Linked DNA regions of Homo sapiens. The protein of the gene in region 6 purifies or fractionates together with the protein of the main gene of each other region. This does not show direct contact. Each region holds a gene or a part of one and is shown on either strand. Other genes may lie near its edges. The genes, in order: RBM25, PPP1R10, DICER1, LRPAP1, CCNT1, POP1 and TOX4.

What was found.
Region 1: the proteins of POP1 (region 6) and RBM25 purify together in Homo sapiens (affinity purification with mass spectrometry, with the first as the bait; one large-scale study listed by BioGRID). This does not show direct contact.
Region 2: the proteins of POP1 (region 6) and PPP1R10 purify together in Homo sapiens (affinity purification with mass spectrometry, with the first as the bait; one large-scale study listed by BioGRID). This does not show direct contact.
Region 3: the proteins of POP1 (region 6) and DICER1 purify together in Homo sapiens (affinity purification with mass spectrometry; one large-scale study listed by BioGRID). This does not show direct contact.
Region 4: the proteins of POP1 (region 6) and LRPAP1 purify together in Homo sapiens (affinity purification with mass spectrometry, with the first as the bait; one large-scale study listed by BioGRID). This does not show direct contact.
Region 5: the proteins of POP1 (region 6) and CCNT1 purify together in Homo sapiens (affinity purification with mass spectrometry; one large-scale study listed by BioGRID and IntAct). This does not show direct contact.
Region 7: the proteins of POP1 (region 6) and TOX4 purify together in Homo sapiens (affinity purification with mass spectrometry, with the first as the bait; one large-scale study listed by BioGRID). This does not show direct contact.

The regions. Positions count from the first base shown.
Region 1 is NC_000014.9:73,120,967-73,124,399, forward strand, and holds the end of RBM25 (RNA-binding protein 25), read left to right. Parts: 3' UTR 1-2,933; downstream 2,934-3,433. UniProt on the Homo sapiens protein: RNA-binding protein that acts as a regulator of alternative pre-mRNA splicing. Involved in apoptotic cell death through the regulation of the apoptotic factor BCL2L1 isoform expression.
Region 2 is NC_000006.12:30,607,244-30,610,743, reverse strand, and holds part of PPP1R10 (serine/threonine-protein phosphatase 1 regulatory subunit 10), read left to right. Parts: intron 1-788; 5' UTR 789-799; coding exon 800-906; intron 907-1,580; coding exon 1,581-1,667; intron 1,668-1,829; coding exon 1,830-1,965; intron 1,966-2,852; coding exon 2,853-2,904; intron 2,905-3,500.
Region 3 is NC_000014.9:95,151,030-95,154,529, forward strand, and holds part of DICER1 (endoribonuclease Dicer), read right to left. Parts: intron 1-3,500. UniProt on the Homo sapiens protein: Double-stranded RNA (dsRNA) endoribonuclease playing a central role in short dsRNA-mediated post-transcriptional gene silencing.
Region 4 is NC_000004.12:3,503,112-3,505,767, forward strand, and holds the end of LRPAP1 (alpha-2-macroglobulin receptor-associated protein precursor), read right to left. Parts: 3' UTR 501-2,656; downstream 1-500. UniProt on the Homo sapiens protein: Molecular chaperone for LDL receptor-related proteins that may regulate their ligand binding activity along the secretory pathway.
Region 5 is NC_000012.12:48,696,208-48,699,707, forward strand, and holds part of CCNT1 (cyclin-T1), read right to left. Parts: intron 1,977-3,500; coding exon 1,931-1,976; intron 32-1,930; exon of another isoform or gene 1-31. UniProt on the Homo sapiens protein: Regulatory subunit of the cyclin-dependent kinase pair (CDK9/cyclin-T1) complex, also called positive transcription elongation factor B (P-TEFb), which facilitates the transition from abortive to productive elongation by phosphorylating the CTD (C-terminal domain) of the large subunit of RNA polymerase II (RNA Pol II).
Region 6 is NC_000008.11:98,134,293-98,137,792, reverse strand, and holds part of POP1 (ribonucleases P/MRP protein subunit POP1), read right to left. Parts: intron 3,322-3,500; coding exon 3,134-3,321; intron 1,312-3,133; coding exon 1,055-1,311; intron 933-1,054; coding exon 839-932; intron 1-838. UniProt on the Homo sapiens protein: Component of ribonuclease P, a ribonucleoprotein complex that generates mature tRNA molecules by cleaving their 5'-ends. Also a component of the MRP ribonuclease complex, which cleaves pre-rRNA sequences.
Region 7 is NC_000014.9:21,483,695-21,487,194, reverse strand, and holds part of TOX4 (TOX high mobility group box family member 4), read right to left. Parts: intron 1-3,500. UniProt on the Homo sapiens protein: Transcription factor that modulates cell fate reprogramming from the somatic state to the pluripotent and neuronal fate. In liver, controls the expression of hormone-regulated gluconeogenic genes such as G6PC1 and PCK1.

The DNA.
Region 1 (3,433 bases), on a different chromosome or scaffold from region 6:
TCATTAGTGTTTAAAAATGTACTGATGATGTGCTTAGAGAAATTCCTGGGGCTTTCTTCGTTGTAGATCAGAATTTCACCAGGGAGTAAAATTACCTGAAAACGTAAGAAGTTTTAAACAGCTTTTCACACAAATTAGATGCAACTGTTCCCATGTCTGAGTACTTATTTAAAAGAAAGGTAAAGATTGGCCTGTTAGAAAAAGCATAATGTGAGCTTTGGATTACTGGATTTTTTTTTTTTTTAAACACACCTGGAGAGGACATTTGAAAACACTGTTCTTACCCTCGAACCCTGATGTGGTTCCATTATGTAAATATTTCAAATATTAAAAATGTATATATTTGATCCTGGGGACTCATATTCTTTCAGAATCATGTAAATAAATGGCATCATGTTGTAATTGTGTGGTGCATACTAGAAAAGTTAAAAATATGGGCTGAACTTTTTATGGACTTGATTTTTATGACTATTGGTATCTAAAGGTCAAGGAAGCCATTTACATTATTTTGGATGAATCTACTATACATCTATGGAAATGTCTCTTTTATTTTAAATTCTGGTTTCTCAACGGAAAATTTCAGAAAAGATGCCCCTTGCCATTTTCGTTAATTTTTCAGTCTTTTCTTAGACACACCCCCAGCCTAAGACCTTGTTCGAGGAGTTTATTGTGTCTGTCTTTTCTTAACATACTGCACTGTTCTTAAGCATCATATTGTGTTGTTTTTATTTAGCCACTATTAACATGAAGGTTTATTCAGGTAGATTTGATTTCCTTTGCTTCGTTTCTTCTCCTGCTCTGTCAACTGTACTTATCTTAAAGGGCCACTCTAAAAACAAGGGAGATGTCGTAATCTGAAACCTTTGGGGAGATGTACTCTGTACTGCATAACATCTCCAGTGAGGTTTGTGACAGGACCTCAACTAAATATATGAATTTGTGCAAGTTCATATATTAAAGTTTCTGCAGCAGAGTGAAAATTGTTACAGTAAATGTGGTAGAAACTGTTAATCGCTTAATGCCAGTTTAAATCATGTTTTGTAACCAAGCTTCAGTAAAAGGCTTTAGATTGTCAGAGTTGGTTGATTTTTAGAATTGTATATATAAAGAATTAGACATTAAACAGGCATATTCTAGTGTCTGAAAATACACATAAGAAATTTCTATTAAGTTGCTTGAACTTTGTGGGTTAATTTTACCATAATCTCATAAATTAATTTTAGTTTGAAAACCTTATACAGTATGAATTCATTTTGCCATTTCAAGTTGTTATATAAAGAGCATGAAAGTCTTTTTTTGTTGTTTTTTTGGGGTTTTTTTTTTTTTGAGAGGAAGTTGTGCTTTTGTCGCCCAGGATGGAGTGCAATGGCGCGAGCTCAGCTCACTTCAACTTCCGCCTCCCGGGTTCTGGAGATATTCTGCTTCAGTTTTCTGAGTAGCTGGGATTACAGGTGCCCACCACGACACCTGGCTAATTTTTTGTATTTTTAGTAGAGACAGGATTTCACCTTGTTGGCCAGGCTGGTCTCAAACTCCTGACCTCAGGTGATCCACCCGCCTCAGCCTCCCAAAGTGCTGGTATTACAGGCGTGAGCCACCTTGCCTGGCCAAAGCGTGAACATCTTAAGAACCAGTCTTGATCTGGCAAAAAAGTAGTAGAATACTACTTTTCTTTATTTGTCCCTAAAAATAAAGTATGTACATCTGTTCACAAGGAAGAAAGGTAAGTTTGAAGTTGTTTTTCTTAAACTTTAATGTGACCCCAAATCATCTGAGGAGTGCTTGTAGAAATAGAGACACTGAAGTAGCAGCGCTGGGGTGGCGCCGCAGGCTTTGCATTTCTGGACAGCTCCCAGCTAATGTCATTGCCAACTGATCCAAGACTACATTTTGATTAGCACTTTAAGGTGTCTATTCAGTATTATTTTATCCTAACAGACTACATAAATGCAGCTGAATTTTCCTTTAAGTAGATTTTAAAGAGAAAAACATTTTTTGAGGCAAATACACGTAACTCATGAACGTAATGTAATCTTGCAAAATTATGTCTGAGAAAGCCCTAATATTCTAGGCTTTTTTTCCATCCAGCCCTGAAAATTTTTTCTGTAGATAACTTTATGTTGTAACTTATTCTGAATCTTATTATGGCATTTCCCTGTAAACTATGTAAGTGTAAGCTAATGATTATTTTGTGAAGCGTGCTGTTTCAGGTATTAATCTGCCATGAATACTAGATATAGTAGAAAAACTGAGAAAACATTTAGCTTGAGAGCCAATTTGAACTAGACACTATCTTTTTTTCTCCTTTTTAATGGAATAAATTTAATGCAAATAAGTGTAAGCAGGTATACAATGTTTAGATGAGGCTTATTTTCCCAACTCTTTTTAACAGGTTTTATGATATCCCCAATTTATACCCAAAAGACTGCTGAGAGGTTTTATGTCAAATTGATTACAAACTTCTCTGGGTTGTATTTCAGTCTTCTGTTAAGTATGAAATTGAGAAATAGTTTTGCTCAACAAAAGATGATGAGGGATTGATTTGTGAATGTCACTGGAGATAAAAGGGTATGAGAAGGAATCCCAAGCAGGCAAAGAAACAGTCTAGCTGTCAAGAAGAAAACAGGGAGATACATACCAAACCCAGGAGCTACTAATATAACAATCATACTATAGAGCGAAGTGAACTTACACTTTTTGATAAACTGATAGATTTTTTGTAATGTGATTATGGTAAAATACTGAAATATTTATGTTAATTTATTTGCATTTGAATGCTTACATTTTTAATTGACAGAATCTTTGCATTTCATTACTTGAGTCATGAAGGCGAAATTAAAGAATGGCAGTCTAAAATACCCAGGTAAAGAAGATAATTTCTAGAAACAAAAATAAAAATTCTTTTCAAGCCATGTTGTTTGAATTAAATGACACTCCTGAGTCTGTCTACTTTTTTTTTTTTTTTTGAGACAGCATCTTGAACCCAGGAGGTGGAGGTTGCAGAGAGCCGAGATTGCGCCACTGCACTCCAGCGTGAGCAACAAGAGCAAAACTCCATCTCAAAAAAATACATGTATTTCTGTTAGCTGATCATCTAATGGTGGCAAAAAAAATTACACGAGTTCAGGAACATCATTAGACATAAATACAAAATACTATGTGAATTATCAAATGTGATAAGCTGAGAGGAAATGGGAAATAGGAAGATTCTCAGTAGAAGTAGTAATATGTGGAAGGGGCTTTAGAGGTCACCTAGTCTGTTTTGCCCATTGTAATTATGTCAGTAGTCCCTGCAGGTGGTTTATCTAGAGGAGTATATATGGGGTTCTAATTCATGGTCTAGCATTGCACTATTAAATAACCACTAATGACAAGTAGTTTTACATGCATTCACGTGAAATCTTTCTGTTTGTTTGTTTGAGATAGGGTCTGC
Region 2 (3,500 bases), on a different chromosome or scaffold from region 6:
GGACCAGATTCGCATCTTTGCTTTTGAAAGCACAAACCACTAGCTTCCTTTTAACTTAGAGACAGTAAAAACTTGTGTAGTGTTTGGCTAATGAGTGACAGTCTATTCAAGGTCTAGGAGGACCTGCTTGATTTCCATGCATCCATTTGTCTCAATCTCTGGCACCTACTCCCAGATCTCCTTAGGGAGGGATTCTGTTTTCAAGTTTTGTTTTGTTCTCCATCATCTACCACTTCAGCTGATACATATCTTGCCATGTGTAGTGATTATGACTCTTAATGGGCTAAGATAAAAAGGACTCAAGTCTTATAAGACATTTAGCTCAAACACCCAAGATTGGCCCAATTTCTATCAAGCTATAGGCTGTTTTTCAAGCCAAATTTATCAGCAACTAGGGAAGACAGGACTTAACGATAGGTGTAAATGCCCTGGAGAGTTGAACATCTTGTTATGGGAACTGATCTTAGCTTTAATACGATCTAGTGAAGTTCAGCCATCCTAGGAAGGATGCTGCTGGGAGGGAGGGACAGGTGTGCTGCCCTACTCCTCCAATCGAATTGCTTTCCTGTTCAGTCACATATGCTCCCCATGCTTAACTTGCCAGGGCTATTTTCTCAGTAGTGGCAAGTGGTCTGTGTCGATTTTTCATATCTAAAAAATAGCATAGTTGAATAATTAGTCATTATACTTTGTCAAATATAGAGATGTGGTTTATTAGAGGGCCTACTCGGGTAGTCCTTGCCACCCATTTATTCTGTGGGTTTGTTTGTTTTGTCCTCTTACCATAGAAACCACCATCATGGGTTCGGGTCCCATAGACCCCAAAGAACTTCTCAAGGGCCTGGACAGCTTCCTTAACCGAGATGGGGAAGTCAAAAGTGTGGATGGGATTTCCAAGATCTTCAGGTGAGTCTTTACCCCTTTTTGTATTCACTGTGAGTAGAGAATATTGTGTGTTAAAACATGGCTGCAGTTGAGGCACACTGGAATGATCCTGGAAAGGAAAGGGAAAGATAGTCAGTGCAATAGGATTAAAATGTAACAATTTTAGGATAAGGGATAGGAAAAGATGATCACTTGTTTCTGACCATAATGGAAACTGGAGATTTGGACGTCCACGGTCCCAAGGGAGTCATGCTTTGGAATGAGAGCAGGGTAGCCTGGTAACAGAATTCTAGATTGTTTTGGTTCGTGTTCCACCTACCCATAATGTTATTTTCCTTCAGGGATTCTCAGGTTTTTCAGGGGAGAGTAAATAACTAAGCCAGTCTTGAACAGACTATTAGGGACAGTTGTTGAGGGATAGCCTTATCACCTGGAGGCAGAATGGAATTCATCCTGTGTGTTACGGAGGCAGCGATGCTCTCCTCCCCAGGTCAGAGACTGCGGTGTCTCTGTTCTCCCATAAGTTTCCATGTCACACTGGATCCATCCCATCTTCCTAGAGGTATATGTGACTCCCCTTCTCTGGAGCAAAGTCCCAAGTCATTAGGAATCTCTAGGCAGTTCACAGAGAGGCGCTTTTGCTAAGAGAAGAGATACTGGCTGCTTCATTTCTAACCCTAACTCATCTTCTGCAGTTTGATGAAGGAAGCACGAAAGATGGTGAGTCGATGCACTTACTTGAACATTCTCCTGCAGACCCGTTCACCAGAAATATTGGTCAAGTAAGTGGGGATCTGGATGGTTGGAATGGGAAGGTGTAGCGAAAAGATGGGGCGGTGAGGCATGGGGTTCCTCGGTCATTGATGGGAGACTGGGATTGTAGGATGTGGTACTGTCAAAACCTAGAAAGGGCATTACTGATAGACTCTCCTGCCTGCCTGCAGATTTATTGACGTTGGCGGCTACAAACTTCTTAACAATTGGCTGACGTATTCAAAGACAACCAACAACATTCCCCTCCTCCAGCAAATTCTACTGACCCTGCAGCATCTACCGCTCACTGTAGACCATCTCAAGCAGGTACCTTTAGTCTTTAAACCCTGATTCTTCCTTTTTTGGTTTAGTCTAATGGATGAAAAACTCAAACTGACTGATGTGGCTGTAATCTTGGGCCTGTGAGGTAGAACAGCAGAAAAAAAATAGGAATTTAGAAGAAGAAGACTTGGTTTGAATTTATCTCCTTTAATAGGTGTGTGGCGGCTGGGCACGGTGGCTCACGCCTGTGATCCCAGCACTTTGAGAGGCTGAGGCGGGCGGATCATGAGGTCAGGAGACTGAGACCATCCTGGCTGACGTGGTGAAACCCCGTCTCCACTAAAAATACAAAAAATTAGCCAGGCATGGTGGCATGCGCCTGTAGTCCCAGCTAATCAGGAGGCTGAGGCTGGAGAATCGCTTGAACCCAGGAGGTGGAGGTTATTGTGAGCCGAGATCGCACCACTGCACTCCAGCCTGGGCGACAGAGTGAGACTTCGTCTCAAAAAAAAAAAAAAAAAAGGAATGTGTCAGCCAGGTGTGGTGGCTCACACCTGTAATCCCAACACTTTGGGATGCTGAGGTGGGTGGATTGCTTGAGCCCAGTAGTTCAAGACCAGCGTGGGCAAAAATGATAAAACTCTGTCTCTACAAAAAATACAAAAAATTTACCCAGATGTGGTGGTGCATGCCTGTAGTCTCAGTTATTTAGGAGGCTCAGGTGGGAGAATCATTTGAGCCTGGGAGGTCGAGGCTGCAGTGAGCCAAGACTGCGCCACTGCACTCTAGCCTGGGCAACAGAGTGAGACTCCGTCTCAAAAAATAAAAAAAAAAAAAAAAGCAGGGAGGACTGTAACTTTTGTCGTTTTTAGCTCTAAGTGGAATTATTTGCCTCCTGGCATTTACCTTTCTGCTGCTCCCATCTCTCATAGAACAACACAGCTAAACTGGTGAAGCAGCTGAGCAAGTCAAGTGAGGATGAAGGTAGGGTGCCACTTCTGCTCTCTCATGGGCTTTTCTCTATTACTTCCACTTAATTACCTTAATATCTTTTCCCATCCTTGGATTGTCCCTTCACTTTTCTCTTTCTACCTCACCTTGCTTTTTTTCCTTCTTTTAAAGAGAAAGTTCCTCTAACCTGTACCCTCTTTCCTGTTCTCAATTCCAAAGTTGTTCATTTCTCTGTTGCTGAATATAAGGTGCCATACTTTAACTGGAAGCTGATTCCTAAAATTGCTTGTTATAAAACACATACACTTAAAATTTGCTGTGGGAAATAGTATCATCCTAGCGTGTCTCATCTGTGAAACTCCTATTACTAAATGATAAATTATGAAATGAGTTTATAAGTGGAAATGTTGGCCAGAAGAGAGGTGCCATAGATCAGAGATGTTATTTGCCAAGTACAAAAGGAAAGAGTTACAAAGTATTTTTTCATATATTTAGAAACAAATTTTATTCTTGTTTTCACATCTATAAAGGAAAATAAAAAGTCTTCAGATTGTTGTAACAATTAGGTGTGTTATACATAAAGCAACTAACGTAGCTTTTTAAAAAAATGTCAGTTTTTGAGGAACTGG
Region 3 (3,500 bases), on a different chromosome or scaffold from region 6:
AAACCTGAATCTAATCATAAGGAAACATAAAACCTAACTTGAGGTTTATTTTACAAAACACTTGGCTTTATACACTGAATTGAAGTATGATTTCAAGGATGATGTGTTAATTCATGCATAGCAGATGAAGAATGTGTTATTTAGGGAAAGTTAAGAGACGTTTAAGGCACTGTTACATTTGGTATCACTACTACAGAGACCAACTAAGATAGCTGAACCAGTATAGATAATCCTCCTCGAAAACTTGTCTGTAAAATATTGTTCTCAAGCCCTCTTTTCCTTCATCCTCCATTATATTACTAGACCATACATTTCAATATTGATAATTTGGGGGCTCACAATATAATCTAATCACATTAAGACTATTGCATGTTAAAATTTTCTCTAATACACGTATTTAAAAGAAAAATATTACATTAATTTTATCAAATGCTAGTTATGTACCATGAGAGTTTAAGAAACTCCTTTTTTTTCTCAAAACCTCAAGAGGCAAACACCACTACGACAGTTTATAGACAAGGAAGCTGAGACTCAAGAGACGTTGCCATATGCCCAGTGCTCATCGGCTATAAAGTCGAAGAATCAGGATTTGAACCCTGGTCTCTCTGACGCCAAACACTTGCTCTTAAGCATCCCTACAAAGCTATGATAAAACATTAATATTTAACTCTGCAAAGTGGAAAGAACTTAAAATACCATGAATCAGAGCAACTGACAGTGATGGCTGGGCAGCAGGATGCATAAGAGGCGGACAGGCTGTGAGTTCATCATGTTAATCTCACCTCCCAGGATGTTACCAAAAGAGGAAAGACAGAAATCCTGCAATCTCGAAACATCTCAGAGGACTAAATACGACTAAATACGACTACTACCTTTCTTTTTCCCTTCAAACAGGGTCATTTAACTTCTTAATCAAAGAACCTTCCTACATCATGTCAAAGATCAGTTTTTAAACTAAGAGTCTTCTCTCATTATTCAAGTTCTCTAAGTACAACCGGTTTGTTTTCTTAAAATTCTGAACTGGTTAACAGACCTCATTTTCTAATCCTCAAGAATTGTTCAAATGTGTTGTTAAAACCCCTGCTTTATGGCATACATTGAGCTGTCAAAGAACGAACAAGCACAACAGAGTTAGTCTGTGCCAACAAGGAGAAAGTCTGCAATACAGTTAAACTCCAATTTTGACGGCGATTTTCTCCCACGATTCTTAACACTTCCCTCAGTCTGCAATGTTTCTGTGCACATAATCATACGTACCTCACAAAGCAAAAAGGACCAAGTAGCATGATTTGTCCAAAAGCAGAATAGTAATAATCTTTTTAAAAGCCTTAATATGCAAGCAATATTCTTCCCCACAAAACTGTGTTAGCTTCTAAATACTTCAAAAAGTATTATAAATTAACTTACTCACTCAACAAATCGGAGTGTCTCCTATATGTCAAGCACCATGTCTGGTAATGAACATGCATGAAGAATCTAATCCTTACTATTCCATAAACCTTAACACAACCAAGAACATGTAATGCTGTTATAAGCCTAAAAAACAAAAAGAAAAAACTCTAAGGCCAAACTTAAGCCTGTCATGTCTTACTTCTAGTAACAGTCTTACTGACATCCTCAGAGAATGTTTTGTAGCATCTTCTTAGTCACTTATTTAAAATGCATATTGAGGTAACTGCATGTTAAAGGAGTACCAACAATTCATTGACAATTTTAGATGAGGAAGCCATTTTGCACTCAGAATTATTTTAACAAAGGCTTTATTACATAACTGAAAATGTCAATTTCACCAGCTACATCTCAAAAATAATCTTTTTCTTTCTGTATTAATTCATCAAGTATACACCACGATACAACCAGTCTTACTTTTTAGACCAACACACGTTCCTAAAGACTGGGTGAGAGGGCTGGGCACGGTGGCTCACACCTGTAATCCCAGCACTTTGGGAGGCCGAGACGGGAGGATCACGAGGTCAGGAGATCAAGACCATCCTGGCTAAACACGGTGAAACCTCATCTCTACTAAAAATACAAAAAATTAGCAGGGTGTGGTGGCGGGCACCTGTAGTCCCAGCTACTCGGGAGGCTGAGGCAGGAGAATGGCATGAGCCCAGGAGGCGGAGCTTGCCGTGAGCTGAGATCGCACCACTGCACTCCAGCCTGGGCAACGTAGTGAGACTCCGTCTCAAAAAAAAAAAAAAGACTGGGTGAGAATTCCTATTTGGAAAATCCTCACTGCCCATGTTGTCCACAGAGCTTATTCCTGAATGGATTGTTATTTAGCATCTGTCAACAGCCTGAATGAGACAACTGATATTCGAGGGACACCACCCAAAAGAAATTAATGAATCAAACCACTGGAACAGTGAACACCTGTATTACTAAAGCTTTTCTATTATGCCTGAGGCTTTTATCCAGTTTCTCTAAAATGGCATGTGAAAAAATGTTTCTCTATCGTTTGTAAAATGTAAAACATTTTCTCCATATATTGCTAATGTTATTTAATGTAATAATCCAAAAGATTGATTATTCTTCATACAAGAGAAAAATCTGCTTCAAATTGGTATGCTTCCTTTCATTAATCAACGTGAGTTACATGCAGCACTCACCTTTCCTTGCCCCAATCATTCATCTAATTCTCTGCCTCCACATTCTATACTACCAACCTTTACCATTTTCATAGTACTCTAATACTTTCCTATTATAAGACCATTTCAAATCCTTTCTCAAAATAGACATCATAAACTATTAAATAAATGTACTAATACTAGAGTCTTAGCAGAAATTTGGAAGAAGTGAAAACTAGCCATCAAAAAATCAAAAGGTCCAAGCCCCACAGGCTAAGGAGGTGGAATACCAAGAAAATAATGCTGCCTCAGAAGACTAGTCATTTGGCAAGTCGTAAATTGCAAAGAAACCTGTGAATAAGAGCGAGTATAATACATACACTGGGCTTTCAGGATGAACTAAGCTCTTGAATGTCCAAAAAGCACAGCAAAAGGTAAACAAAATAAGTCACTTGGCTCCAACTTTCTCTTTATACAAATTAAAGACCTCACCAATATCTTCCTCTGGCATTCAATAAAGCACATCACTCCATGTTTGATCAGTTTTTTGAATACCTGCCAGACACTATGATTGGAACCAAGATCGTAAAAAGGAGTCGACCCTGGGCTTCAGAGAGATTACAGATTTTACTGACAGAGGAGTTGTTTGTAGGAAATTATCACTGCTTGGAGGAACCCTGAGAAAACTCATACTGCAATAAATTCTGAGTCTAGTCTAGTGTTTTGAAGATCAAGAAACAATGTGACCACTTTGAGGTATATGTCTAAAAGAAGGGAAAGCATGGACTCCAATGAATTATTTGTATACCTACGTTCACAGCACCATTATTCACAGTAGCCAAAAGATAGAAGCTACCCAAGTGGCCATGGACAGATGAATGGATAAACAAAATGCAGTATATTCATACAATGAAATACCATTCAGCTTTTCCA
Region 4 (2,656 bases), on a different chromosome or scaffold from region 6:
GCCTCTGCCCTAGACCACCCCCTCGGTTCAGCAGGCCCAGGCTGGTCCCTCTCGGCACCCGTGCCACAGGAAGCCTGGAGCGTCCGGGACGAGGCGAGGCCCGTGCAGACCCGATGGCACCGCACACTCACGCCCCACACACGGATGGGACCTGGGCTCAGCCCAGCTACCAGCAGCTCACATGTGGGGTGTGGGGACCTCGCCGTCCCCATGTCCCAAGCAGCCAACGCTGGCACGGGTGAGCATCTGTGACTCTGGGAATACCCGTGCCAGGCAGGCCACGTTATCCCGAACCAACTTAACTGCCTATCAACAGGAAGCTCGTACATCACCGCGGCCCGTCTCTCCCTGTGACGTGCAGCCTCAGCCTCCTGCGTTCAAGTGATCCTTCCCCCCCGCAGTTTCCTAAAGTGTTGGGATTACATGCGTAAGCCACCATGCCCGGCCAAAGTAAGTACACTTAGCAACTTAAAAATACACATGGATCAAAGAAGACATCATACTTGAAATGAGAAAATATTTTGAACTGAATGGCAGTGAAAACACTACACATCAAAACTTAGGGAAATGTGGTTAGTGTGGTACGTTGAGGGAAACTTATAACCTCACGCGCTTGTTTCACAAAACAACAGCAGACAACAGAGATTTCCAACTCCAGCAATGACAGGCTAGGGTACCTAGATGAACCATCACACTGAAAACACATGCTGCAGTAAATACTGAATTTCTCCTTAAGAGCTGTGGGAATCTGACAAGCCAGGAAGGTAGAAACAAGGGAGAAGTGAGGGACCCAGGGGCCCAGGAAGGTCGTGAGCGCCAAGCACCCAGTGCTGCTGCCCCAGGGCGTGGCCAGTCCAGGCTTACGGGGCTCAGGTCCTAGGGGGCTGACCAGCAGGGTGGGGCAGACACCAGGCTCCAGCCCAGCCTCAGGTGAGAGTGAAGGGAGCACCTATCTGCAGCAAGCTGAAGCCCCCAAATCTAGGCCCTGAGGGTGAATCGGTACCAACCCCCTCGCCCTATCCTGAATGTGAGCGGGGAAAGTGCTCACCTGGCAAGATCTGGCCTGCGGCCCTTCAGGGGTCAGCATGACTTGTGTGGGTCAGAAAGCCTCAGCCCCAAACCCGGTCTCAGAGGCTTAAGAACCCTCTCCAGGAGGATGATCCATATAACAGCTCTCAAATAGGCCCCCAAATAATTCTTCACAAACACTTAACAGTTCAGGCCGGGCACAGAAGCTCATGCCTGTAATCCCAGCACTTTGGGCAGCCGAGGTGGGCACATCACTTGAGGTCAGGAATTTGAGACCAGCCTGGCCAACATGGTGAAGTCCTGTCTCTACTAAAAACAGAAAAATTAGGCCAGGCATGGTGGCTCATGCCTACAATCCCAGCACTTTGGGAGGCCGAGGTGGGCGGATTGCCTGAGGTCAGGAGTTCGAGACCAGCCTGGCCAACATGGTGAAACCCTGTCTCTACTAAAAATACAAACATTAGCCCACTGTGGTGGTAGGGGCCTGTAATCCCAGCTACTTGCGAGGCTGAGGCAGGAGAATTTCTTGAACCCAGGAGGTGGAGGTTGCAGTGAGCCAAGATTGCGCCATTGCACTGCAGCCTGAGCAATTGAGATTCCATCTCAAAAAAAAAAAAAAAAAAACCAAAAAACAAAACACACACACACACAGAAAAATTAGCTGGGTATGGTGGCAGGTGCCCATAATCCCAGCTACTTGGGAGGCTGAGGCAGGGGAATCGCATGAACCTGGGAGGCAGAGGTTGCAGTGAGCCGAGATCGCACCAACGCACTCCAGCCTGGGCGACAGAGCAAGACTCCGTCTCAAGAAAAAAATAAATAACAAAGAACAGAAGACAACATGACCCCACAAGTGAACCAGAGGGAAAGACAGGAACAGACCATTGGAGACTTTAGGGATGGTTAGTGATACCAGAGGCTAAAATAATCATGTGCCCTACCATGCACGCAGCCATGGTGGCCCGGGTCCTGCCACGCACGCAGCCATAGTGGGCTGGCTAAGCTGCAGGTTGTGCCTGAGCTCACGGACACGAGGAAGAAGGGCGACCGTGTCCTGGACAGCCCAGCTCGAGGCTGCTCTTCAGCCCCAGCCCCTGGTGTCCCGCAGCGGCTGCGGTGGCAGTGGTGGGGGAGCAGGCATGGCACCCGGAGCACTGGAGCCCAATGCAGGGTGACCCCTTCCCCCCAGCTCCAAATCCAGCATCCCTCCCCGGTGCCTAGCCCTCGCCAGGCTGCTGGCCCCATCGCTGGGAAGGAGTGGTTTGACCCCTCACCACTGAGAGGAGTAAGGTGTACTTCCTTGTCAAGCATGACTCCGAGCGGCACTTCTTCCACACCGCGCAGCTGCCTGTGCCTGGCAGGGGCCTCCTGCGGCCGGAACGTCCCCTGCATCCCCAACCACACCTGGCACAACACCATGGCTGAGGTGCGCTTCCAGCTGCACCAGCAGCCCACACGCCTCCTGAGCACCACTACCAGCTACCCCAAGCCCGTCTATACCAGCTACCCCAAGACCGTCTATACCAGCTACCCCAAGACCGTCTATACCAGCTACCCCAAGACCGTCTATACCAGCTACGCCAAGACCGTCTATACCAGCTACCCCAAGACCGTCTATACCACCACC
Region 5 (3,500 bases), on a different chromosome or scaffold from region 6:
TCTCAGCCCAAAGCTAAAACTCTCCATTATTTAAAAAAAAAAAAAAAAAAAAAAAAAAAGGCTTAAAAATAGACAGGAGAGTAAGAAGGGTAAGAAATATGCAATGCTCTGATCTAGCACTCAATATAATTTCCTATTAACCCACCTGTTCAGGTAACAACATTTTAAAAACTCTTGAATTACACATCACTTAATCTACACATTGACCAGAGCCAAAAAAAAAAAAAAGGAAAAAAGGAAAAAGGCTGGGAATTCAAGTTCTTTAAAACATTGACTTCTGGGCCAGTATTCAAGCCTAGAAGTCAATATTTATTACCTATTATCCTGAGACTAAGCTCAGATCCTAAGGAAAATTGTAAGCTTTTTGGTCTGTGTAATCCGTAAATCAAAAACTTAAGGAAATATCTTAAAAATAATTTGTCTCTCACCAATCATAGTTCTGGTCTATTTAAAATAATAAACAGACAACTACTCTCTCAAGTATAAATATGTTGGTTTATTTCAAAACTTTTTCGTAACAGGCTATAAAAATGAACTTCTTAGCCCTGACAGTTACTAGGGATATCATTGGTTTCCATTAACTAACAATGTTGGGCAAGTCATTTGGTAATACAAGTTATGTACTAATCATTTACTTTTTTTAGACAGAGTCTCTCTCTCTGTCACCCAGGCTGCAGTGCAGTGGGGCAATCTCGGCTCACAGCACCCTCTGCCTCCTGGGTTCAAGCAATTCTCGTGCCTCAGCCTCCCGAGTAGCTGGTACTACATGCATGTGCCACCTTGCCCTGCCAATTTTCGTATTTTTTAGTAAAGATGTGGTTTCACCATGTTGGCCAGGTTGGTCTCGAACTCCTAGCCTCAAGTGATCCACCAGCCTCAGCCTGGGATTACAGGTATGAGCCACTGTGCCCAGTCTCATTTACTTTTTTTAAAAAGGGAAGAAGGAAAAAGACTGAAACTCTTAACATCCATAAGTGCCCATTGATTGATAGAGGGGGAAGAAAAAGGAATATTTTAAAATATAATTATTGGCCAGGCACAGTGGTTTACACCTGTAATCCCAGCACTTTGGGAAGCCAAGGCAGGCGGATCACTTGAGGCCAGGAGTTTGAGACCAGCCTAGTCAACATAGCGAAACCCCATCTCTACTGAAAATACAAAAAAATTAGCGGGGCATGGTGGCGCCAGTCTATAATCCCAGCTTAGTGAAGAGGCTGAGGCCGGAGAATCACTTGAACCCGGGAGGCAGAGGTTGCAGTGAGCCAAGATCGCACCACTTCAGTCCAGCCTGGTAGACAGAGTGAGACTCTGTCTTAAAAAAAAAAAAATATATATATATATATATATATATGCCTGTAATCCCAGCACTTTGGGAGGCTGAGGTGGGCAGATCACGAGGTCAGGAGATCGAGACCATCCTGGTTAACAAGGTAAAACCCCATCTCTACTAAAAACACAAAAATTAGCTGGGCGTGGTGGCGGGTACCTGTAGTCCTAGCTACTCGGGAGGCTGAGGCAGGAGAATGGTGTAAACCTGGAAGGTGGAGCTTGCAGTGAGCTGATATTGTGCCACTGCACTCCAGCCTGGGCAACAGAGCAAGACTCTGTCTCAAAAAATAATAATAATAATTTAAAAAAAAAAAAAAAAATATATATATATATATATATATACACATATAATTATTGCAGAATACTCCAAATTAGATTTTCAGTCACTATCATGCAGAACTGAGTAGGTTATCAAAAAAATCAGTACTAAATAATTACATAACCTTAGAAAATTAAAAAGTACCATGGAAATTTAAAGTACAACATGAAAACTGTGCAGAAAAATCAACATTCACCAGAGAATTATCTATAGCACACTGTATCAAACTCAAGTAAAGTCCTATACCAAAAATCGAAGAGAAAAAAAAATTAAAATATAAACCTGTTGGTTGCCATGAAGTAAGAAGTCTGTGCTAAGTCCTTGCTTGCTAAAGAAAAAAAAAAAAAGTCAGGGGTGGGGGAGGAAAAAAGTTATTAGTTCCATTCATTCTCAACAAATATTTAGTAAGCATTTAATATTTGCAAGGTACTGTGAATATAGTGGCAAATGAGACACACATGGTCCCTGTAAACCTGACGTTTACATTCTGCCAAAGTAGACAGATCAATGATTTTTAATTTTAACATTAATAACTATGCTGCTTCCAGATCTAGGTACTCAAGCTTTATTCTGCACACCACATATCTGAGGTACTTGTTTAAATGCAATTCTTGGACCTGCTCCCTAAAATTTAATTAAATGTTTGGAGAAGGGTGCAAGCATTTTTTAACAAGTAACCCAGAGATTCTGATGTAAGGATTCACTGAGAATCACTAAACTACAGGATGAACTAAGATGATCTAGAAGCAAGATCAGAATCTAGAAGACTTTGACATATTTGGGAAAAGTGACTTTTGCTGTTAAGAAAGTTTTTAATTAAGGCTGGGCACGGTGGCTCACGCCTGTAATCCCAGCACTTTGGGACGCCGAGGTGGGCGGATCACCTGAGGTCCAGAGTTCAAGACCAGCCTGACCAACATGGAGAAACCCCGTCTCTACTAAAAATAAAAAATTAGCTGGGGTGGTGGCGCATGCCTGTAATCCCAGCTACTCGGAAGACTGAGGCAGGAGAATCGCTTGAACCCGGGAGGCGGAGGTTGTGGTGAGCTGAGATCGTGCTACTGCACTCCACCCTGGGCAACAAGAGCAAAACTCCGTCTCAAAAAAAAAAAAAAGTTTTTAATTAAGTAGCCCTAATTAAGATTTAATTAATTAATCCCCAAATCATCAAATAATGTAATATATTACAATGAAAAAATTTAACTTCTTCCAAAACAAACTGTTCTGGGTGACAAAGCAAATTTTTATCTTCCTCAGGACATAGTCTTCTCAATATTAACATACACCCATCTCTAGTCTTATCCTTGTGCAATATAACATTTTAATACTTTCAAATATAAAGAACTCAGGAAAATTTGGGAATTTTCACAGGAAACACATATTAGTAAAATGTAAAATAAGACCAATTATCAGTTTGGCCTAAAAATCATAAAAGGCACTTAAAGGCACAATAGTGTTCAGATATTCTTGATACTAAACTAAATAAGAGAGTTTCATTCAATTATACCTAATATTGTTAAATTAGAATTAAAAAGAAAAGTTCTGCCAAGGGATTGTATATCATGGAAAGTCCAAATAAATTCTGTATGATCCTCTAGGTGGCCTTTAATCAACCCCAGAATTAAAATAAGATCACCCACTCCTCACAACTTTCATAAAATTTCTGTTAAATAACTTCACAAACTGCCCAACTTTGACAAACATTCTCAAGAGGTTAGTTCTCTTTAACTAGAGATCATCTAAAAATATTACTTGTAAGAACCCAACAGAAAAACATCAAGTCAGAACAACTCATTTTGATTTAAGCCAAGTAGGCCTTTAAATTTAGCCAAAGCAGAACTATTATGTATTG
Region 6 (3,500 bases):
GTTAAGTAAAGGTATAAATTCAGTTCCTCAGTCACTCTAGCCACAATTCAAGTATTCAACTGCCACATGTGGCTAATGGCTGTCGTACTGGACAGCACAAAGGAACATCATCCTCACAGAAAGCTCTACTGGAAGTGCTGCCCTAGACATACTGCTCTTAACCTTTTTAGAGATTCTAGACCCCTAAAACTAGCCCCAGAAAACCAGCCAGGTGCGGTGACTCATGCCTGTAATCCCAGCATTTTGGGAGGCCAAGGTGGGCGGATCACCTGAGGTCAAGAGTTCCAGACCAGCCTGTCCAACATGGTGAAACCCTGTCTCTACTAGCTGGGCCTGGTGGTGTGCACCTATAGTCTCAGCTACTCGGGGGGCTGAGGCAGGAGAATCGCTTGAACCCAGGAGGCAGAGGGTGCAGTGAACCAAGATCGCACCACTGCATTCCAGCCTGGGCAACAGGATGAGACTCAATCTCAGAAAAAAAAAAAGAAAAGAAAACCTACATGGCACACGCACACATCACAAAATCTGGCACACAATTTCAGGGATTTTAGAGACTCCCTACCTATGAAGCAGAAGTTAAGACCCTCTACAAGACTCACAGATGCAAGAGCAGTCTGTATTTAAGTAAGAACAGTCAGTTTACTGATCATATCCACTTAGTTGTGGTCTTCTAGGAGAAGTGAAAGATAACAAAATCTTTGATAATAAGCATAATAAGTAGGGAAATAAACATCTAAAAGCCATGGCCCAAAATGTTACCAAATTATATATTAGGTTTCACAAATTTGACAGGAAAAACATGATTAGAATAAAACACTACAGTCACTTTTACTCTTACAGTGTGGACAGAAGCAGCTTTTATTGCTTCAGTTAGGATGGAGTGGGAAAGTGGCCCAATCAGCCGGAATCTGTTCATCTCCATCGTCAAATCGCTGAAAAAGAAAGAACATCTTAAAATGGAAACTTTCATCACACAACATCTGTGCCACTGACAAAAATGGAGCAGGTCTTCACTGAAAATGTTCAGTAGGTTCAAAGCAAATTCAACTCATACCTGATTATAATGCCTGTGGTTGGAGAGATCCAAGAGTATGGTAGACATGGATCTCTAGTTCCATCACCGATAATTTTTTTAATTGGTTTAGCATTTTCTCCATCATCTTTCCTTTTTCTTTTCTTGCCAATTTTCTCGTCAGGCAATTCAGTTTGGCTTTTTTCTTGGGATGGTGTTGGAAGTGGGTCAGCGATGCAGACAGCTGATTTGATGGGTTCCACACACTGGCACGCTGCTTTTATTTCCTCTAAGATATCCTAAAAATATATTTAAACATTCACTTTAAAATCTTGAAATTTAAATATATTACGACAAATTTAGTTGGGTTTTTTTTTTTAAATCTCTTTAAAAATTAACATTTTTGGCCAGGCACGGTGGCTCATACCTGTAATCCCAGCACTTTGGGAGGCCGAGGTGGGTAGATTACCTGAGATCAGGAGTTCGAGCCCAGCCTGACCAACTGGCAAAACTCCATCTCTACTGAAAAATACAAAAAATAGTTGGGTGGCAGGCACCTATAATCTCAGCTACTCAGGAGGCTAAGGCAGGAGAATCACTTGAACCTGGGAGGCAGAGGTTGCAGTGAGCTGAGATCGTGCCATCGCACTCCAGCCCGGGCAACAGAGCAAGACTCCGTCTCAAAAAAAAATAAAAAATAAAAAATAAAAAAAAATCACATTTGTATTCCCTCACAAATTAACTTAAATTAAATTTATCATCAAAAAGCTTTTTTCGGCCAGGTGTGGTGGCTCACGTCTGTAATCTCAGCACTTTGGGAAGCTGAGGCAGGAGGATGGCTTCAGCCCAGGAGTTTGAGACCATGGCCTGGGCAACATAGGGAGACCTTGTTCCTACACAAAATAAAAAAATAATTAGCTGGACAAGGTGGTGCACCCCTGTAGTCTAAGCTACTCGGGGAGGCTGAGGTAGGAGGATCATTTGAGCCTGGGAAGTAGAGGCTGCAGTGGGCTATGACTGCACCACTGCACTCAAGTCTCAATGACAGAGCAAAACCCTCTGGGAAAAAAAAATTTTTTTTAATTTAATTTTAATTTTTGAAAAAAAGCTTTTTTGGGTGTTCTGAGTAGTGTATGCCACTTTAAACAAAAAAAAATTTTGAAACTGAAAATTTCAAATGGGTTAATTAGGGCTGGGGCTAGGGGTAGGGTTAGTCAAATATTATGAAAACAACATGATCACTCTGACTACATTTTTTTAAAGTAGTGAGTATGCTAAAGAAGGGAAGCTAAGCTAAATTCAGTGTGAAAAATCATTAGAATTACTCAAAAATAGCTTTTCATTATCAAATAGCCCCTAGATACTAGTGAACCACTTCAGTCATGGTAGAAACATTAGTTCAAATTCAACATTTCAAATAATTAGCATAAGGCTGGTTTTTATCTCTACTTCTGCTTATGACTTACTAAAAATATGAGATGTCAAGATTAGTTTTTTTTTTTTTCGAGACAGGGTCTCACTGTCACCCAGGCTGGAGTGCAATAGCACGATTTCATCTCACTGCAACTCTGCCTCCTGGGCTCAAAGTGATCCTCCCGCCTCAGCCTCCCAAGTAGCTGAGACTACAGGTGCATGCCACCAATCCTAGCTAATTTTTGTCTTTTTTGCAGAGACAGGGTTTCACCGTGTTGCCCAGCCTAGTCTCAAACTCTTGGATTCAAGTGATCCAACTGCTTCAGCCTCCCAAAGTGGTGGGATTACAGGCATGAGAAACCATGCCCCGCCCTGACTTCATTATATTTGATAAACAAGTTCCGGGGATATAATGTACAGCATGGGTGGTGATGGATGTGTTATTTGATTGTGGTATACAACATGTATATCAAATCATCATATTATATACTTTGAATATATTTGCTTTTTGTCAATTAGACATTTTTAAATACAAATTTTTAAAGTTTTTTAAAAATTCACTTCATTCAATAATCATAGAGCCCCCCATATACAAATATCAGACTATCAGACAAACCTTTACACTATTTACATTTCTACAGTATTGACTTCCAGCAGTAATTAAAAATGCAGTTTCAGAATGACGGGAGATAACCTGAAGGATTATACCTGTTTAAGGGTTGGATGCAGCCAGATCCACAGCTGCCTGCTCTCAGAAGGGTCACCCGGGGTCCTCTGGGACTTCCAGATAAACGTAACAGGCCCAAGCATTTCTCTGGGATATTTATTCACCCGATAAAGCACAAGGCTCCCTTGGCGCTTTCCAGACAAGCAGTGAACTGCTGCAAACGTCAGCCCTGACATCAACAAAAGCAAAATTCCATAATTCCGGGTGTTGAGACTGCAGTCCTATTTCCTGATAACCACACTGTCATTTACTGTCTGCCTCCATGAGAGGTGAAGTTTTGGTTGTGAGGATTGCTCAGATCAAAGCCTGGCACACAATAAGTTCTCAACAAATATGTGTTAAATGAGT
Region 7 (3,500 bases), on a different chromosome or scaffold from region 6:
TCTTTTGTCTTAAATTATGCCTATGGTTCTAATGAAAAATTCTTTCAGTACCATTACTTAGGACATAGCCTTTATAACCTGTTTACTATGATTCTTGAAATCTCTCTCTAAAGATTCTAATAGAGCAGTTATTTCACAATTATTACATCTAAACTGTTAGGTCACAGAAATTCGCTGTCAGCCAGCCAATTATACTTTGTTGTTTTAGGTTCCTTTCAAACAGATGCTAAAATGTACTGTCATGGGAACTTTACCCCCTCTAAAATATTTGCAGAGTTTCCTACTTCTTCTCCACTTTAGAAATTATAATGTTAACAACAAATAAAGATTCCCATTAGTATAGGATTTTCAGAAAACCTCAACAATGCCAAAAATGCTAGTCTTGCTCTGACCAAGCTTCTCTCTAAGAGAGGAAAAGGATTACTCCAGTTGGCTAAAGACCCAATCTCTTCCTCTGAGTCCAACTAGGTCAATAATAACACATTCTTTCTTTTCTGAATGAGGCCACCACTCATGCAGCTAACAGACAATGTCTGATTAAGATGTGAACTGCTATGGTTCTGTTTTGACACTAAAATCTAAATGGTGGCATTTACAGCAATAGACATTTATAAATAATAGCAAGAGACTGCTGTCAGAGAGACCTGGGTACAAGACCTTGAACAAGTTTTCTTCATCTGTAAAATGGGAATTATAATGGTAATCCCCTTATATGGTTATTATGAGGATAAGTGAGATTTCATGCATAAAATCTTAGCACATTGCCTGATACATATAATGGCTTAATCACCATCATTAACCATTGTTATGAATGATAATATCCTAATAATGATTACCCCCACCCCAACCAATTATAACAGATAATTGGAATTTTAGAAACTTTAAATTCTATCAATCTAACACATAGCATAGTAAATATAAACTGATTCAGATCAAATTCAATAGGTACCAACATTTTTTTTTTTCATAATTGAACAATGCATTCTTTAAATAGAGTTCCTAAAGGTTCCTTTTCTTTTTTTTTGAGATGGGGTCTTGCCCTGTCACCCAAGCTGATCTGGAACTCCTGGGCTCAAGCAAGCCTCCAGCCCCAGCCTCCCGAGTAGCTGGGACTACAGGTATGTGCCACCACACCCAGCTAATTTTTAAAATTTTTTGTGGAGACGAGCTCTCCCTGTGTTGCCCAGGCTAGTCTCGAACTCCTGGACTCAAGTAATCCTACTGCCTCGGCCTCCAAAGTGTTGGGCTTACAGACCTCAAGGTTCCTCTAGATCCTGAAATGTTCTTCTATTATGACCATTTCTGTCTTTTTTTTTTTTTCTTTTTTTTGAGACAGAGTCTCGCTCCGTGGCCCAGGCTGGAGTGCAGTGGCGCGATCTTGGCTCACTACAACCTCCACCTCCCGGGTTCAAGCAGTTCTCCTGCCTCAGCCTCCAGAGTAGCTAGGACTACAGGTGTGTGCCACCACGCCCAGCTAATTTTTGTGTTTTTTAATAGAGACGGGGTTTCACCATGTTGGCCTCGATCTCTTGACCTCGTGATCCACCCGCCTCAGCCTCCCAAAGTGCTGGGATTACAGGCATGGGCCACCGCACCTGGCAGTTTTTTTTTTTTTTGAGATAGAGTCTCCTTTGTCACCCATGATAAAATGCAGTGGCGTGATATTGCTCACTGCAACCTCCGCCTCCTGGGTTCAAGTGATTCTCCCACCTCAGGTTCCCAAGTAACTACAGGTGCACACCACCATGCCAGGCTAATTTTTATTATTATTTTATTTTTGAGACAGAGTTTCACTCTTGTTGCCCAGGCTGGAGTGCAATGGCGTGATCTCAGCTCACCGCAACCTCCGCCTCCCAGGTTCAAGTGATTCTCCTGCCTCAGCCTCCCTAGTAGCTGGGATTACAGACATGTGCCACCATGCCCGGCTAATTTTGTATTTTTAGTAGAGACGGGGTTTCTCCATGTTGGTCAGGCTGGTCTTGAACTCCCGACCTCAGGTGATCCGCCCTCCTTGGCCTCCCAAAGTGCTGAGATCACAGGCGTGAGCCACCACGCCTGGCCATGACGCCAGGCTAATTTTTGCATTTTTTGTAGAGATTGGGTCTGGCCATATTGCCCAGACTGGTCTTGAACCCCTGGGCTCAAGCCATCACCCTGCCTTGACCTCCCAAACTGTTGGGATTACAGGCATGAGCCACAGCGCCCAGCCTCTAATTCTGGTTTAATGAAGACATTAGGCTGGGAGCAGTGGCTCACGCCTGTAATCCCAGCACTTCGGGAGGCCCAGGTGGGCGGATCACACGAGGCCAGGAGTTCGAGACCAGCCTGGCCAACACAGTGAAACCCGTCTCTACCAAAAGAACAAAAAATTAGTCAGGCATGGTGGCACACACCTATAATCCTAGCTACTCGAGAGGCTGAGGCACGAGGATCACTTGAACTCAGGAGTCAGAGGTCACAGTGAGTCAAGACTGCACCACTGCAATCCTGCCTGGGCGACAGACCAAGACCATGTCTAAAAAAAAAGAAAAAGAAAGAAAATAAAGGCCGGGTGCCGTGGCTCATGCCTATAATCTCAGCACTTTGGGAGGCCGAGGTGGGTGGACCACCTGAGGTCAAGAGTTCGAGACCAGCCTGGCCAACATGGCGAAAATCCATCTCTACTAAAAATACAAAAATTAGCCAGGTGTGGTGGCAGGTGCCTGTAATGCCATCTACATCAGGAGGCTGAGGCAGGAGAATCACTTGAATCCAGGAGGCAGAGGCTGCAGTGAGCCGAGATTGTGCCACTGCACTCCAGCCCGGGTGACAGAGCAAGACTCTGTCTCAAAAAAAAAAAAAAAAAAAAAAAAAAAAAAAAAAAAAGACATTGCTAGAAAGAAAATTTCCAGCTAGCAGAAACTAGGGAGAAAAAAGTGTGCCTGTGAAATGCCCAATCTCTGAATCACATTTGTAAAAGTTTCCTAAAAGACAAAAAGATATATGTACAGTTTCCCTTCTCCTTACTATTTTACTTGGTATGGTAAAAAATCTGGTCGTTGTCTGAGATATAAGTAGCACACGGAGCATAAGAACACACAGTTCTCAGCTGGTAGTGGTGGCTCACACCTGTAATCCCAGTACTTTGGGAAGCCAAGGTGGGTGGATCACTTGAAAAGTCGGGAGTTCGGGACCAGCCTGGCCAACATGGAAAACCCCATCTCTACTAAAAATACAAAAATTAGCTGGGTGTGGTGGTGTGCGTCTGTAATCCCAGCTACCCAGGTGGCTGAGGCACGAGAATCGCTTGAACCCAGGAGTTGAAGGCTGCAGTGAGCCAAGATCACATCACTGCACTCCAGCCTGGATGACAGAGCAAGACTCTGTCTCACACGCGCACACACACACACACAAATAACAAAAAATACCACGCAGTTCTTGATGGGAAAAACTGAAACTTTCCCCAAGAACTGAACTTTTCTCAGTAGTACACAAATCATGTATTTATGTATGTTGTTTTG